Regions from separate parts of the Homo sapiens genome. Here region 1 is linked to region 2. The links come from fine-mapping of genetic effects on gene expression. A gene starts in region 2. The other region holds a variant in brackets. All regions are shown on one strand. Distances are between the middles of the regions. Region 1 overlaps RCBTB1 (RCC1 and BTB domain containing protein 1). Region 2 holds the start of ARL11 (ARF like GTPase 11).

What was found. PIP is the estimated chance that this variant, and not a neighbour inherited with it, causes the effect. A credible set is the group of variants that fine-mapping cannot tell apart.
Region 1: its variant is the best candidate, but not a certain one, in a credible set for the expression of ARL11 in whole blood (TOPMed, PIP 0.86).

The regions. Positions count from the first base shown.
Region 1 is chr13:49,530,326-49,538,873 of GRCh38, reverse strand. RCBTB1 (RCC1 and BTB domain containing protein 1) reads left to right here. Exons shown (of 13, transcript NM_018191.4): 13 at 4,612-6,928. The coding sequence ends at 4,752. Among named protein-coding and RNA genes, the nearest start is that of PHF11, 39 kb to the right of the region's middle. The variant T/C (reference allele first, on the strand shown) is at 4,153.
Region 2 is chr13:49,624,152-49,632,699 of GRCh38, reverse strand. ARL11 (ARF like GTPase 11) reads right to left here and starts at 4,193. Exons shown (of 2, transcript NM_138450.6): 1 at 4,085-4,193; 2 at 1-2,270. The coding sequence starts at 2,252. The coding sequence ends at 1,662. RefSeq lists an enhancer at 3,892-3,941.

The DNA of each region.
Region 1 (8,548 bases), 94 kb after region 2:
AAATCCTACAAATATTACAGATTCAACGTAGAAAAATTAGAGAATAGAAAGAAGACAAAAAGAAAGACTCACCTCTTTATTTCTAGGGCATATATATATATGTGTGTGTGTGTGTATATATATATATTCATAATTTGTATGTATTTTTTTTTCCTGGTGATACAGGGTCTTGTTCTGTTGCCCAGGCTGAAGCACAGTGGTGTGATCACAGCTCACTGTAGCCTCAACTTCCTGGGCTCAAGTAGTCCTCCTTCCTTCCCAGTCCAGGAACTGGGACTACGGATGTGTGCCACCACACCCAGCTAATTTCTTATTTTTTATTTGTTGTAGAGACAGGGTTTCATTATGTTGCCCAGGCTGGTCTTGAACTTCTGGGCTCAAGTGTCCCTCCCACCTCAGCCTTCCAAAGTGCTGGGATTATAGGCATGAGCCACTGCGCCAGGCCTCTTTCTAGGGTGTATTTCTTAGGTTACAATACAAGTTACGTAATTGACTAATGTGCTTTTACATTTTATTTCCTGAATGCTACAAGATACAGTGAGTACATGAATGAAGTTCTGGAGTACAAAATTAAAATCCATAGCTGGGCACAGTGGCTCATGCCTGTATTCTAGCTACTCAGGATGCTGAAGTGGGAGGATTGCTTGAGGCTAGGAGTTTGAGACCAGCCTGGACAACATAGTGAGACTGCCATCTCTTAAAAAGAAAGCCCTCTTACTGTGTTTATTAGTTGATTGGAGGCTACTGATGAGTCAGGTTAGAAATTGACTGCAAAAACTATTATTTTTAGAGCTCAACTTGGGGATGCTAGATGACTTTGCCTTCGTGCTGTGGGCCAAAATGCTAGGAAGATGGAGACTACCTGCTTCCAATGTTTCTTGTCTTTCTACGAAAGTACCTGAGGTTCCTCCATGCCCCGTTTTGACAAGATAGCTTTGAAGCAAATGTACACACATTAAAGCAACAAAAATGTATGGACTCAGTAGTTACAGGGAGTTTCAAAAGTAAGTTGATGATTGTGGATCCCTTGCTATGAACGTGTTATGAAACTGTCCACAAGTTTTATTAAGAAGGACTTCACAAAGGAGCACCCAGATACTCCTTTGGTACAGACCTGAATAAATATTGACATCAGGGAGAAAATGTGGATAAAACATTGTTTCAAGATAGATCAGTTGCACAATGCAAACTGATTCTTTTCAGGAAATTTTTTATTTTTATGTGTATTTGAACGTTAAGAGAAACAGCTGGGAAGTATTATTTGTTTAACCAGAGTAGAGAACTTTCCAGAAATCCTGTGTGCTAAGCAACTTATATCTTACGATCTTGCTTTTGGAGGGAAGCGATAAACGTGAGCCCAGGAATCTAATTCTGAAGTTGGTCTGGGGTATGAGTATTGGACAGCTTGGTGTTAAGGCTTGGTGGCCAGCGTTTTTTTCTTCTTTTGGTGGGCCAAATGAAAAGTCTTTGATCAGCAGTAGGCTGACAAATGTTTTTTGCGTAATGGGATAAATTATGTTTTCTCCATATGGTAGAATGTTTAAGTACATTTTGAGAACAAAACAAAACTTCTTTGATTTGGAATATTTTGTACTTGATGTGCTATAACATGAATTATAGACTGACAGTTTTGGGGTTTTGTCTTGCAGTTACTTTAACAACAGGTTGGACAGAGTTAGGTGTGGTTCGTGATCTTGTGTCATCTGGAATGTGTCTTGTGGGGAGCTGTGATGCCGAGGCACCTGCTCACCCTGGTTAGGTGGTCTTCAAATTATTAACATTCAACTAGTTTAGCTTTGGAGTTTTAGGACAGGGTAAGAACTCCCTTAGAGGCGGCATTAGCATTTTTTAAAATGAGGATATTAAGACCATCAATGCTCTGTGTTTTGTTTTGTTACTAAAGAAAATTTGTGGAAAGGAAAAACAGCTTATTTTCAGAGTATATATATTGAATTGGAATAGTTTCAATGTTGAAAGATTTGGAATGATTTATAAATTACTTCAGAAGAGCAGTTTTTATTTTTGTCTTCTTTGCTAATGACAATAAATCTGGTATTTTATCTCATTTGCCTTAGAACACTTTATAATTGTTCTGCCACATAACGTCATAAACAGAGTTTAGTTTCTAATACCAAGAAGACTGTATTAGACCCTTCTGTTTTTATACTCTCCACTTCCCTATTCCATGGGCTATAAGAGGACTTTCATTCTGTCGGGAACTTTGTTCATCTCCTGGTCACATGATCCTTCTGGTCCTCCTTGGAACTGTTTTATTTAAAGCCCAGTTAGAAGTAAGAAGTCAACTATAACCAGCCCTGTTATAGTTGACTTCTCACTTGGACAGGAGTTGCATTTTCTTGCCTGTTATTGAAGATTTGATCCTTTGCAGAATGAAAGGAACAGATTATGTAGATTCTTATAATACTAAAGAGAGGTCAAGTCGGAAGGGCGTTTGTCTAACTTGCTCATCAAAGGCAAACCAACCCTGGGCACTGGTTGCTAAGTGGTTCAGCTTGACTGTGCGACTCTCTGGTGAACTTGCAAATTCAAACGTCCCTCACCACATGCGTTCAGGGCTTCCTTTTACATAGATCTGCCTCAACCAAGGTTTAATTAGTTACTTACACAACCCAGATTTAGATTGTTTTCAGAATTCTCTAGTTTGGCTTTTAATGTTTGGAACTTTTGAATATTTATTGCATACCCAGATACCTCAGTAGTTCAAACTAATTGGAGGGGAAGGGAAGGCAGTTTGATAGAACCATTTTCATGAGTGTATAAAGTGAATTGTGATTAGTGGCACCATTTTTATACCTATATTGTGTATAAAAGTTCTTTTTTTTTTTTTTTGAGATGGAGTTTCACTCCTGTCTCCCAGGCTGGAGTGCAGTGGCATGATCTCGGCTCACTGCAACCTCCGCCTCCTGGGTTCAAGCGATTCTCCTGCCTCAGCTTCCTGAGTAGCTGGGATTACAGGTGCTTGCCACCACACCTGGCTAATTTTTGTATTTTTAGTAGAGACGGGGTTTCACCATGTTGGTCAAGCTGGTCTCAAACTCCTGACCTCGTGATCTGCCCGCATCAGCCTCCCAAAGTGCTGAGATTACAGGCGTGAGCCACCACGCCTGGCCTGTGGTTTATCTCTTAATGGTTATGTGACTGGATGGGTTTCTGGAGTTTACTCTAGGGCATCTTTTAGCCAGGGACAGGAGGACCCTTAGAACAAGGAAATCATTGTTTGCAGAGGTCTGTGCTGAGAGCAGAAAAGGGGTCTCTCCATGTTTGTGTGGGCCCCTTCCACTCTGTCTAACATTCCCACCTCGTGGTAGCTGGAAATGTGCGGTCAAAACCTGCAGTTGAAATGTTGAGCTTCTGGTTCGATAGAACCCGGAGTGCTGACCTTCAATGTACCAGCTAACCAAGTTGTAATAAAGTCAAGCTATTTGTGATAAGAGCTTTTAGTGTGATTTCCTTTTATATATTGAGTCTTTGTATGCATTCCAGGTGCCTAATCGATTTAATAAATATATATTCCAACATCCTAAGGGACAGACTATATTAAAGTTTGGCAGGGGATGAAAGGGTGGATTAGCATAGGCAGGGATTGATTTTGAAATGGTTCTGGTTTACCCCTTGTGGATGTTACTCCCCTGAATGTTGGTAGTTGGTGACTTCTGTTTGACTGAAAACTAACCTGTGTAAATATACTTCTGTGGGGGTGATGTTCTGAGATATTAGTGTGGTGGAAGTTGTAGTGTTATTATTCTTTATGGCTTTAAAAATAAAGTCATTATTAGGAGAGCATAAAAGTGAATTTAAGGTGAATTTTTTGGGATTTTCTTTCAGAGCCTCTGCTCTGTCACCCAGGCTAGAGTGCAGTGGTGCGATCTCGGCTCACCGCAACCTCTGCCTCCCAGGCTCAAACGATTCTCCTGTCTCAGTCTCCTGAGTAGCTGGGATTACAGGCATCCACCACCACGCCCGGCTAATTTTTGTAGTTTTACTAGAGACGGGGTTTCCCTATGTTGGCCAGGCTGGTCTCGAACTCCTGACCTCAAGTGATCCGCCCGCCTCGGCCTCCCAAAGTGCTGGGATTACAGGCGTGAGCCACCGTGCCCGGCTGGGATTTTCTTTTTAATGTGCCACTTTAGG[T/C]TGACCATATCTCTTCATTACCTTTCTGTTTCTTAAACTAACCCACATCTTAATTCTTTTCTCTGATGTCTTGAACGTGACAAAACACATTCTGCAGACTAAAGTGGCATTCTGCCTTTTACAACAATGTCTTTGAGCATAACTAGATTATGTGATAATCGTGCAGGAAATTCTTTCCCTTGTAGATCTTGCGTGTGTGTGTGTGTGCGCGCGCGTGTGTGTTTTGAAGAGTCGTACTTTGAGTTAGAGGACCATTGCTTTTACTGCGTTGAATAAATAGTATGTGTTTTTCTCACACCTACCTGTGGTCACCTTTTTGCCTAGTTTTAGGTATCTGGCCTCTCAAATATCTTTTCTGGGGGAGGGTGAGAGATTTGGGGTAAAGGGCTCAGAGAGAAGTAATTCAATCAAAGTTGCCTAAAAAAGCCATTTTTGTTTTTATTTTTGTTGTGTGTCCAGGATTTAGAAGAATTCTGCTTTAAGTTTTGCATCAATCATTTGACAGAAGTTACACAGACTGCAGCATTTTGGCAAATGGATGGCCCTCTGCTAAAGGAATTCATTGCTAAAGCCAGTAAATGTGGAGCCTTTAAGAACTGAAGCGCAAGGCTGCTGGGTTCTGTGTGAGTGCTCTGGGGCACTGTTGAGGATGTGTCCAGTTTGTGCTCTACGGGTGATGTGATTCTGCAGGTAAAAGACCATCAGGTTGTTTTTTTCCACATCTGGGACACAGTTGTTTGTGTAGGAACATAACAAGGGTGTACGGCTTTTCTTGAGCCCATTTTAAACAACCCTTGTTTCCAGATAAGTGTATTTTAAATGTGACCTTTCGTAAATTTGGGCTGGAACATGTAAAAGGGTGAAAGTTAGTCGTTTTTGGTCTTCTTTTCATTTTTGATTAGAGGAACTTCTGAACTTGGAAAGGGGAAGTTGGCAGCAACTCTCCTGGGCCACGTATCAACAATCTTCTGACAGCAGGAGCAGTGATAGTTGGGGAATTGTGAGATGAATGGAGAGGCCCCATCGTGAATTAAAGATGCTGACCTGGGGATTGTTAAGTGCTGCCTTAGTTGCTAGTTTAGTAGCCTTACTGTGAAGGAATAATTAAGATTGTTTCAGACTTTTGTTTGTGTGCTTGCGTTGATGACTTTTTTAACTTCAAGATAAATCAAAGTAATAAGTTTAACGTATATTAAACCTGTTGAAATGATAATTATGTAAAGATAAATATTCTAGGTTAGTCAAGATTTCTCTTAAGATTTAAGTGCATAAAGAATAGTAATTTAGAAGTATCCGTGAAAAGTTGATAATGAAAGAAATTTGATGAAGGTGAATATTTTATAAATTAGAATCTCCACTACTTATCCAATGGTGTTTTATTTCATTAAGGTAGAACTTGAGAACTCAAGTTTAAATTGTCCCCCACCACCTTCTTCTATAAATGCAAACTTAAGAGGAAAATAATGACATGTATAGTATACTCTTGCCTTCCTAAATTATGACTGCTGAATCATCATATCTACTATATATGACTGGAAGAAGTGGTTCTTCAAGTCAACCCTCTTACAAGACTTAGTGGAATTTGCTTTATCTACTTTAGGCCAAATCCATCACACATTGGCTTATGTGAAACTTTATCATCTTTCACTTTTGGTTTTCCTCTGTTTTTAAACATCTTAGGTATAACAGCACAATTTCACCTTGAAAAAGCACCAAAATTATGGTGTTCCTGAAAAGATCCTATTAAAAGACAGTAGTTTATTTGAACTGGTTATGGAAGGTGACTTTGGGATGTAAGAGTGTTCAACTGTGAGTTTCATCATGTGTGTCCGTTGAGCTTGCTTTTAAGAGCAATGTTTTGCTTTGCTCTCTGGTCCATGAACTCATTTCCATTTGAGTGAGTTCCCTTAGTGAATTTTGTCTCCTGCTTGGAAAGTCTCTCTTCTGAACCTGGAGCCTGAATACATTTTCAGAGCCAAATTACAAGTGGGTGAAGACATGCTACAACTACTATTTTTAGCAATGTTTTTAAATTTGTGTCTATTGGGGTGGGAAGGGGAGTGAGGCCCTAAAGATAGGAATTCACTGATAGCTGAAATAGATACAAGCCTAGGAGCCCCAGCCCCCTTTTCTTGACCATATCACAAGTGATTGAAGCCCAGTGAATTAGTCGGTTAGAATTCGTTCTACAACATGATAGAACTTTTCTTACTAGCTTCAGAAATGCACATTGATTTGTGCTATGATGGGTGGTGTTTGTAACAATCACTGTTCTATAGGCTTATGATCTGAGCAAAATGTGAACTTCAGTATGTTTACTATTGCTCTTACTTGAAAACTTTTTTTCAAAAAAAGCACAAATTAAAGTAGTAAATTCATATCCATAGATAGTTCATTCATTCAACAAATATTTACCAAGTTCCTAATATAAGTGAAGGACCACTTCTCATATTAGATTACTAAGTCATTTGTATGAATATGTGTGGCAGTGAAGAGAACAGGTCTTTCAAAAAGCATTTGATTATTTTTTTTAAATACACTCTCTTATTTTTCTACTTGTTTTTTTGTTAATCATAGCAGGATATGACAACTCTTATTTGAATTGATTTTTTCATCTAATGTAATAATGGAAGCCAAAGTATTCATATTTCTTAAGATAGCCCTAAATGTACTCTTGAACTTCTTACTGGAACAATGTTTGATACTCTAGTATGTAAGCTGTATTTATGTAATATTTAGAACGACATGTTAATAAACAAAGTAACATTAAAACAGGCACATAGAGTTGTTTTTTTCCTTCAAAATCAGTAGTCTGCAGCCTTAAAAAGGAAAGAAATTCTGACACATGGTGCACAGAGGTGAACTTGAGGATATTATGCTGGGTGAAATAAGCCACTCACAGAAAAATACTATGTGATGCCATTTGTGTGATATACTTAGTCAAATTCATTGAGACATAGTAGAATGGTCATTGCCAGGGTCTGAGGGGAGAGGAGAATGGGGAACTTGTTTAATGGATACAGAGTTTCAGTTTTCCAAGATGAAGAGTCCTTTAGGTCAGGGGTCCCCAACCCTCGGGCCACAGACCCATATTCATCCCTGGCGTGTTAGGAAGAGGTCGCACAGCGGGAGGTGAGTGGCGGATGAGTGAGCATTACTGCCTGAGTTCTGCCTCCTGTCAGATCAGTGGCAACATTAGAACATTAGATTCTCATAGGAGTGCAAACCCTACAGTGAACTGAGTATGCAAGGGATCTAGGTTGTGTGCTCCATATGAGAATCTAATGACTGGTGATCTGAGGTGGACCAATTTCATCCCAAAACCATCCTCCCCACCCCTGACCAACCGCCCCATCCCCATGGTCCGTGGAAAAATTGTCTTCCACGAAACCAGTCCCTGGTGCCAAAAAGGTTGGGGACTGCTGCTTTAGGTGCATGGTGGTGATGGTTGCACAAAAATGAATGTTTAATGCCATTGAACCATACATTTAAAAATGATTGGGATGGCAAATTTTAGGTTATATATATATTTTACCATAATAAAAAAAATCAGTGGTGTGATTCTTAATGGGTATCAGGCTAAAAATAGGTACCAGCATGAACATGTCAACTGCTTGATTCTCAACTATACACAAACAAACATCATAGAAATCTTTGGATTTTATTCCTGCTGAAGGGTAGTACAGTTGAACTGGCACAGTAGAAAAATGTGTCTGTACCTTTGGGGGTACTTGAAGGGAAAGGCATATTCCCTATCCTCAAAGAACATATGAATTATTAGGAGAGAGGGAGATAGGTTTAGGAATTAACAACACAATGAGATACTTATAAAGAGCTTTTCATAACAGTCAGTGAGAGAAAACCAAATAGGATGATGTGGTTTGGCTCTGTGTCCCCACCCAACTTATCTTGAATTGTAATCCTCAGTTGTTGAGGGAGACCTGTTGGGAGGTGATTGGATTATGGGGGCGGTTTCCCCATGCTGTTCTCATGCTATTGAGGGAGTTCTTATGAGATCTGATGGTTTTATAAATGGCAGTTCCCCCTGGGCTTTGCGTGCTCTCACTTACTTGCCACTACGTAAGACGGGCCTCTTCCCTTTCCGCCACAATTGTAAGTTTCTTGAGACCTCCCCAGCCATGCGGAACTGAGTCCATTAAACCTGTTTCCTTTATAAATTACCCAGTCTCTGGTATTTCTTCATACCAGTGTGAGAACGGACTAATACAGTTAATAGGGTTAACATGACAAGCAGTTAGTTGTTCTGAAGATAACGCTTGTGTTGGATAGGGGAAAATATAAAGTGTCCTTTTAGCTCATCTCCAAAACAAAAAGAGGCACAAGAGATGGGGGCTAATGAGCCTTCCAGAGCTTATCATAATTAAGTTTGGTTAGA
Region 2 (8,548 bases):
GAACCAGTCCAGGATAAGAAAGAATATCTAACATTCAGAGCTGTTTAACATGAGAACAGGTGCTAAATATAGGCCACTTGCCATTAAAAAACTCAGATTACAGAAAGTGTTCTGGGGTTGGATGAGGGATACAACAACCACATCAGTGATTGTTAACTTTTGGGAGTCACAGATGTCTTTGAAAATCTGGTAAAAAGTTCTGGATCTCCTTCCCCGGAAAAATGGTCCAAAGCGTAACATTTTGCAAATAATTTCAGGTGCTTCATGGATGCTAGGTAATGATCACCTGATGAGCCTTCTAGGATGCTATGGTCAACCTTCCTTTTCCCTGTCAATCATGAGACAGAAGGCATTCGTCACTGTCATCTGTATCTTCAGAATTCACAATTCCCACCTAAAGCACATGATTCATATTCGAAAGCTCAGTGTTTTTGCCACAAACTAAATGCTCTGTTTTTTTTGTTAAATTAATGAATAAATAAAATATTTTATTGATCTGATCTTTAACGAAAGATATGTGCTACAAGAAGGAGAAAAGAGAAGGAAAAAAAAGAAAATGAGTTTTTGAAAAAGATCAACACAAGATGTCATAAAATCGGGAGAGGCTAATTAGCATCAGAAAAAAAACAAGGATAAATTTTGGATGGTGTGAACTTCCAGCCTCTTGCCCAGGGGTGAGCGTCCCAGGGCAGGGAACGTCTAACCTGCAGACCCCTGCTGTTGTATGGGCCCTGCCTAGCTTGCCCTTCTGAGTGACAGTGGCACATCCCCAGGGGCCACTGGGGAAAATCACTCATAAGGATCCGCGATCCATTGTGACATGTCCAGATGATATTTGAATTTGACTTTTTTTTTTCTTTTTGGAGACACAGCCTGTCTTTTTCACCCAGGCTGGAGTGCAGCAGCACAATCTCGGCTCACTGCAACCTCCACTTCCTGGGTTCAAGCGATTCTTCTGCCTCAACCTCCTGAGTAGCTGGGACTGCAGGCGTGCACCACTATGCCTAATTTTTGTATTTTCAGTAGAGATGGGGTTTCACCATGTTGGCCAGGCTGGTCTTGAACTCCTAGCCTCAAGTAATCTGCCCTCCTCCGCCCATGAGCCACTGCACCTGGCCTCAAATTTGATTTTAAAACCTCTTTCCCTATTTGAGAATTTAGGTCTCTATTATTATGCAACCAGTGGCTACTCTATTATGACATATTGCTTCATTCACACTTGGTAACGAGCTATTAAATGAAGTATGTTGAGATTTTTTTCTTAGAGTATCATCATTATTATTATTATTATTATTGAGACAGGGTCTCACTCTGTTGCCCAGACTGGAGTGCAGTGGCGCGATCTTGGCTCACTGCAACCTCTACCTCTTGGGCTCAAGCGATTCTCCTGCCTCAGCCTCCCAAGTAGCTGGGACTACAGGCACATGCCACCATGCCCGGCCAATTTTTTGATTATTAGTAGAAATGGGGTGTTGTGATGTTGCTCTCCAACTCCTGGGCTCAAGGGATTCCCCCACCGTGGTCTCCCACAGTGCTGGGATTACAGGCATGAGCCACCGGGCCAAGCCAGCATTTCTTGTTTGATAGACTAAGCGTAAATTTCTCAAGGATCAGCTGGTTCTTCTAGTTTGTATGAGCAAAGATATGCTGCTCTGTCTGGATCAAGATCTCTTGCTGTCTCCGCGCTCAGCCCCATGGGCTCTCGCCTGCAGACACATGCAGCTGCGAGATTTCAGGAGGCTCCACAGGCTCTGCAGGGCCTCGGGCAGCCCCTCCCCAGTGAGGGCACTGCAGCCCCGGAGCTCCCAGCAGTGGTCCTGGAATCTCTCTAGACTCAGCCTGTTTCTGATCTTAAGCAGCGGAAGTGCATCAGGTGCCTCCTGCTTGTTGGCCAGCACCAAGAAGGGGACGCCAGCCATGTTGGGGTCGTTCAGGACTTCTGTGAGCTCAGCCGCCGACTCGGGTAAGCGGGCTTCATCTGTGCTGTCCAGCACGTACACGAGGATATCTGTGCCTTCCAGATAGTCCTTCCAGCTGGCTCTGAGCGGGGCCTGCCCCCCAACGTCCCAGAGAGTCAGTGACACGTGCCCAGGAGCTTTCAGAGGCTCCACGTTGAAACCAACAGTGGGCAGGGTCTCCACCAGCTGGTGGCCCTTCAGCTTGTAAAGGAGCGTGGTCTTGCCCGCCGAGTCCAGGCCCATCATCACCACCTGGGCTTCCGCCTTGTGACCTCTGGAATTCACAGAACCCATGGTGGCCACTGCTGAATCCTAGGGGAGAAAGGCCAGGGCACACATCAGCTACTGTCTTCTGAAGGAAGACAAATCCATCCTGGTGCAGTGGCTCACACCTGTAATCCCAGCACTGTGGGAGGCCAAGGCAGGAGGATCACTTGAGCCCAGGAGTTTCAAACAAGCCGAGGCAACAAAGCAAGGACCCGCCTTCTCTACAAAAATTGAAATTAAAAATGGAGCACAAATCTGTGCAGGCAAACAACGGAAGAGTTTTTCCAAAACAGGAAAAGTCTTCACAGGGTCAGATTTTAAACAGATGCCTGGGCTTTGAAGGAAGTGAGGATGTGTGAGTCACCATCAGCTAACCTGTCTCTGGGTCAGATAAGAGTGGTCCCTGAGCAGAGAAGATCAGGGGCCTCCTGGAAGACATTCCTGAGGAGTTAAAGCAAAGAGGCAAAATGAAGTTCCAGTCAGACAGAGCTGGTTCAGTAGAAATTACAGAACGATGTCTTCAATTCTTGCTGGTCTGTGGCTTCTAACCTCTTCTCCTCCTATAAGCCTAAATGCTGAAATGGAAGCTAAGCTGGGTTCCATGCACAGAGTGAGAAGGATGGTTCAGCTCACGGTGACCTCTCTTTAGAGCTTCCCAAGGACCAGTACTATGTCTTGGAAACACAGTGAGGTGTCACTTAATGACGGGGACACATTCTGAGAAATGCTTCATTAGGCAATTTCATCATTTTACAAAATCATAGATTGTAATTACACAAACGTGGATGGTCTAGTCTACTCCACACCTAGGCTATATGGTATGGCCCATTGCTCCTGGGCTACACACCGGTACAGCATTCCTGTAATGGGTACTGTAGGCTATTGTAACACAGTGCTAAGTATTCGTGTATCTAAACATAGAAAAGGTAGTGGTTGCACCACAACACTAAGCTGAAAAATAGGAATTTTTCAGCTCTGTTATAATCTTATGGGACCACCGTTGTATATGTGGTCTGTCGTTGACTGAAATGTCTTCATGCAGTGCCTGACTGGGGCTATTTATAAATACTGTTTACTGGGGGCAAATTTATGAGTCAGAGCAAAGCAGTTTCCTCCACTGTCTTACCAAGGTCAATGACTTCTACAACACTCCACATGTGCTTTTTTGTTTGTTTTTGGGTTTTTTTGTTTTGTTTTGTTTTGTTTTGTTTTGAGACAGGGTCTCACTCTGTCGCCCAGGCTGGACTGCAGTGGCATGATCACAGCTCACTGCAGCCTCGACTTCCCAGGCTCAAGCCATCCTCCCACCTCAGCCTCCCCAGTAGCTGGGACTATGGGCATGTGCCATCACACATTTTTGTTGTTGTTTTGAGACAGGGTCTCACTGTGTCACCCAGACTGGAGTGCAGTGGTGCAATCTTGGCTCATCACAACCTCTGCCTCCCTGCAACCTCCGCCTCCTAGGTTCAAGGGATTCTCCTGCCTCAGCCTCCCGAGTACCTGGGATTACAGCTACTACTACCACCCAGCTACTTTTTGTATTTATATTAGAGACGAGGTTTCACCATGTTGGCCTGGCTGGTATTGAACTCCTGACCTCAAATTATCCACCTGCCCGGCCTCCCAAAGTGCTGGGATTACAGGCGTGAGCCACTGTGCCCAGCCACATATGTTTTTAAAGAATCCCAAATTTTAAGACATAAGACCTGTTCCCAACTTAGACGATGCCTGCGTGGAACAGAGAAGAGACATCTCAACTTCCGGGAATGGGGGTGGGGGGATATGAGCTGCCTCTGGAAGGAGGTAAGCCTCTACTCATCCCTACTCCCAAGGGTAGAAAAGTAAAAAGTTAAAATTACCTCTGTGTTACTATTAGACTGCAGCTGTGAGATCCTGCGTGGCTCTCCTCCCCTATGGAGCTGCTTTCTGCTGGCCAGGCATGACCCAAGAGCGAGATGGGAAGGAAGCAGAGCAGCCGTTGCTGCTTCTCCTTTTTGTGCTTCCTTTTCCCAGGTGGCTGGGGGGCGGGGCTGGTGTCACGGCCCCTCCCTCAGCCCTAGGGCGCCTCAGAGCAGTCATCTTGCTGGGCTTGCCACAGAGAGGTCCCCGGCTCTGCAGGTCCTGGCAGAGCAAGGCCCAGTGACAGCTCCATTTTTTAGCAACTCAGACTTGGGTGCCTGAAGGAGGGAGCACGAGCTCGGAGCTGTGTCCAAGCGCAGCCGCCTTCTCTCTTCCCTCAGGATCCTCTGAGCTCCTCGCAGAGAATTCTGACCTCTTCCTTTCAGTACATGCCTCAAGGTTTTTCTGGTGGCTAGAGATTCTCTGATTTGCTTGGAATCACACATGGTTTGTTGTTGTTGTTGTTGTTGTTTTGTTTTGTTTTCTATTTGAGACCGAGTCTTGCTCTGTCGCCCAGGCTGGACAGCAGCCTCCGCCTCCAGGGCTCAAGCGATCCTCCCTCCTCAACCTCCTAAGCAAGTGGGATTATAGGCAGGTGCCACCATGCCCAGCTGATTTTTGTATTTTTCATAAAGACAGGTTTCACCATGATGGCCAGGCTGCACATGTGTTCTTTTAAAAGCTGCCTATGGCCAGGCGTGGTGGCTCAGGCCTGTAATCCCAACATTTTGGGGGGCTGAGGTGGGTGGATCACGAGGTCAGGAGTTCGAGACCAGCCTGGCTAACATGGTGAAACCCCGTCTCTACTAAAAATACAAAAATTAGCTGGGCGTGGTGGCACCTACCTGTAGGCCCAGCTATTTGGGAGGCTGAGGCAGGAGAATGGCATGAACCCGGGAGGCGGAGGTTGCAGTGAGCCCAGATCACACCACTGCACTCCAGCCTTGGTGACAGAGCGAGACTCTGCCTCAAAACAAAAACAAAAACAAAAAACAAAAAAAGCTGTCTACATATGATGAAAACATTCTTTAAAAGGTATGTATGATGCAGATCAACCTTTAAAATTGTGTTAATGTAGTGATTAAAGTTACCGTTCAATTTTTTCTTGAATGGTGTCACTGTGTTTTTCCCAGTAAAAATGACACCTCTAGAAAATGTAATTTTTAAAAAATTGGCTAGTCGCCGGGCATGGGGGCTCATGCCTGTAATCCCAGCACTTTGGGAGGCCAAGGCAGGAGGATCGCTCAAGCTCAGGAGTTCAAGACCAGCCTGGCCAATATGGTGAAACCACGTCTCTACAAAAAATAATAAATTAACCAGGCATGGTGATGTGTGCCTGTAGTTCCAGGTACTTGGGAGATTGAGGCCCAAGAACTGCATGAGCCCAGGAGGTGGAGGCTGCAGTGAGCTGAGATCACAGCACTGCACTCCAGCCTAGAAGACAGAGTGAGACTCTGTCTCTCTCCTATTTTTTTTTTTTAATTGAGATGGAGTCTCGCTCTGGCGCCCAGGCTGGAGTGCAATGGCACAATCTCGGCTCACTGCAACCTCCGCCTCCTAGGTTCAAGCAATTCTCCCACCTCAGCCTCCCGAGTACCTGGGATTACAGGCACGTGCTACCATGCCTGGATAATTTTTTTATTTTCAGTAGAGACAGGGTTTTGCCATGTTGGCCAGGCTGGTCTCCAGCTTCTAATCTCGAGTGATCTGCCCGCCTCGGCCTCCCAAAGAGCTGGGATTACAGGTGTGAGCCACTGCACCCAGCCGAGACTCTGTCTCAAAAAAAAAAAGAAAAAAAGAAAAAAAATTGACTAGTCAGAAACCACTGATTCAGTAGGTATTGAATTTGGATATGGAGTCACAGTGATTTAGCTCTTATAACCAGTAATCTTTGTGCTGTTTTCTGCTTTCCCATGCATTATTTCATTAAAATATCAAGACTCAAGTTGGATGTTATGACTCTTCCATTTTACAAGAAAAGAAGCAGGCTCGGTTGGAAGGCCGAGGCGGGCAGATCACAAGGTCAAGAAATCGAGACCATCCTGGCCAACATGGTGAAACCCCATCTCTACTAAAAATACAAAAATTAGCTGGGCATGGTGGCGCACACTTGTAGTCCCAGCTACTCGGGTGGCTGAGGCAGGAGAATCGCTTGAACCCGGAAGGCGGAGGTTGCAGTGAGCTGAGATCGCGCCACTGCACTCCAGCCTGGTGACAGAGCAAGACTCTGTCTCAAAAAAAAAAAAAAAGAAGCAGGCTGGGACAGGGTGAATCATTGACTCATGATCTTGCTGCGTTTTATAATTCATCTCTTTCTCTTTTACCATGTCATGCTACTCACACAGAAAGTGCCTTGTAAATGGCAAACACCAGATTGTTGTTGTCATTGTTTTTGTTAAGCTACTGTATTTTAGCAGGAAGAACTGATTAGGAAAAGTCAGAAACTCAAAGTGTGTTATGTGCACCACTGTGTGAGGGTATTGATGCTGCTCTTGGTTTGCTCTTTTCAGTGCCTGTGGTCAGTGATCATCCTTTTTCAAGGCCAGGGGGTGTGTGGGGAGGAGACAGAAACAGATAGAGTGCTCCTGGGGGTGGAATTATCCCAGGGAAGTCTCAGAGCAATAAAGAATCGTCTGGTGGAGGGCTTGTCATTCTCGCCCAAACTGCAGCGGGATCGGCTCACGCTGGGACTAAGTCCTGTCCGGGCCCAGCTGCTGAGTCAGCAGGAATCCTGCAAGGGCCCGATTTGCAGGAAGATTGGGGCCGGACGAGGATGACAGCAGGCCAAGGTTGAGGGGCTCCTGGGGGTGGGGGAGCTGGGGTGCTGCTCTGACCCAGTTCCCAGAGCAGCACCAGGGCTAGGTTTGGGCCCCATGGAGGCAGGGAGGGAGCAGAAGCTGTAGAAGCATTAGCACAGTGGCTTGGAGGCACCATGCCAGGCTGCCTGGGTGACCTATGCCCTGGGTGACACAGAGAGAGAAGGGACACTCCCCTTGGCCTCTAGCCTGGAGCTTGGGGCCACATGGCCAGGCTGCAGGCTGCCTCTGGAGGTAGCTGCGTGGCACTGACCACAGAATCTGAGACAGGCACCGCCATCAAGGGGCCGGCTGGCAGTCAGGGGTGGATCTGTGAGCACTGCTGGGGGGCACAGGCTCCCCCAGACATCAAGGAGCCTTGCCTGAGGGCCAAAGTCTTGTGTTCGCTGGGAAACCATGATTACTTTGTGACCCCAGTTCTGCCCAAAGGCCCTTGTGGCCTGAGTTTCTCTGTACAGCCCCGACCCTGACCCCTTCAGCTCAACCAGCAGGGAAGCTTTTCATTAGACACCCCAACGTGGGGAGGCTCACGAGGGCTACTGCCCCGGGAGGCAGCGCAGAGCAGAAGGTAACAGTGTGGCTTTGATTTGGGTCCACCTGGGGGCACACTTGGCCTCCACTGCTTATTTGCTGTGAACCTCAACCTGAATTTCTCTGCACCTCAGTTTCCTTCTCTATAAAATGAGGTTGATGACGATAATAATGGTACCTAACTTGAAGGGTTATTGGAAGGATTTAATAAGTGAAGACACATCAAGTACTTAGCCCAAAGCCTGGCGTCTAGTCCCAGACTAGTTCTGTTAGAGAAGGACAGGAGAGCCCTCAAACGTAGTGGTGTGGCTGGAGAAAGTGACGCTGGTGAATGTGCAAGCCCCAGCACCTTTGTGTGTCTGTGACTGCAGCTTCCAGACCTGGAATAAGGAAAAGGGGCTACACGGGGCTCACTGATACCAGGAGAGACAAAGGTCTTAGGCCCCATCTCTACTGCCCTAAGAGTGTGAGTTTAGAAATGTCCTCCTGCCAACTCTCATACAGGTGGTCAGGCCTGGAGGAGCACGGCACGCCCATTGCACTCACCAAAAAATAACTTGTAAGCCAGGATGCTTCTTCTGATGTTTCTTATGGGATCTGTTTGACCCAAGAGCTGGGGCGGTTTTCTGTGCAGCACAGCTAAGGGAAGGCAGGGGGCCAGGGGCACGCAGAGGACACACACAGGGACTGAAGGAGTCAACTGTAGGGACGACATCCAAATGGGTTGCTGGAAGACCATGGAAAGTTGGTGGTTTTTAAGGGGTTGTTTATCATGCAACAGAGCCTCGTGGTCACTTTTCTGCTCTCTACAGATAGGTCCAAAGGAGGAGAGTGCTAGAACAAGAGCTTTATTCTCCTGGAAAGTGCTAGAGAAACATGGACGGAGTCTCTTGTCCAGCCCTCCTTTCCCTGGGCTCCATAACGGCCCCCACCTTTTTATCTTGTTGTGACCTCCTCTTGCTCTGGTCTCTCACTTTCTCAACTTGCAATATGCAAATTAATAACTTTTTTCCAGGGACTGCCTCTTTTAAAAATCAAATTCTATTTCTTTCTATTTTCAAGCCATCCATACAAAAT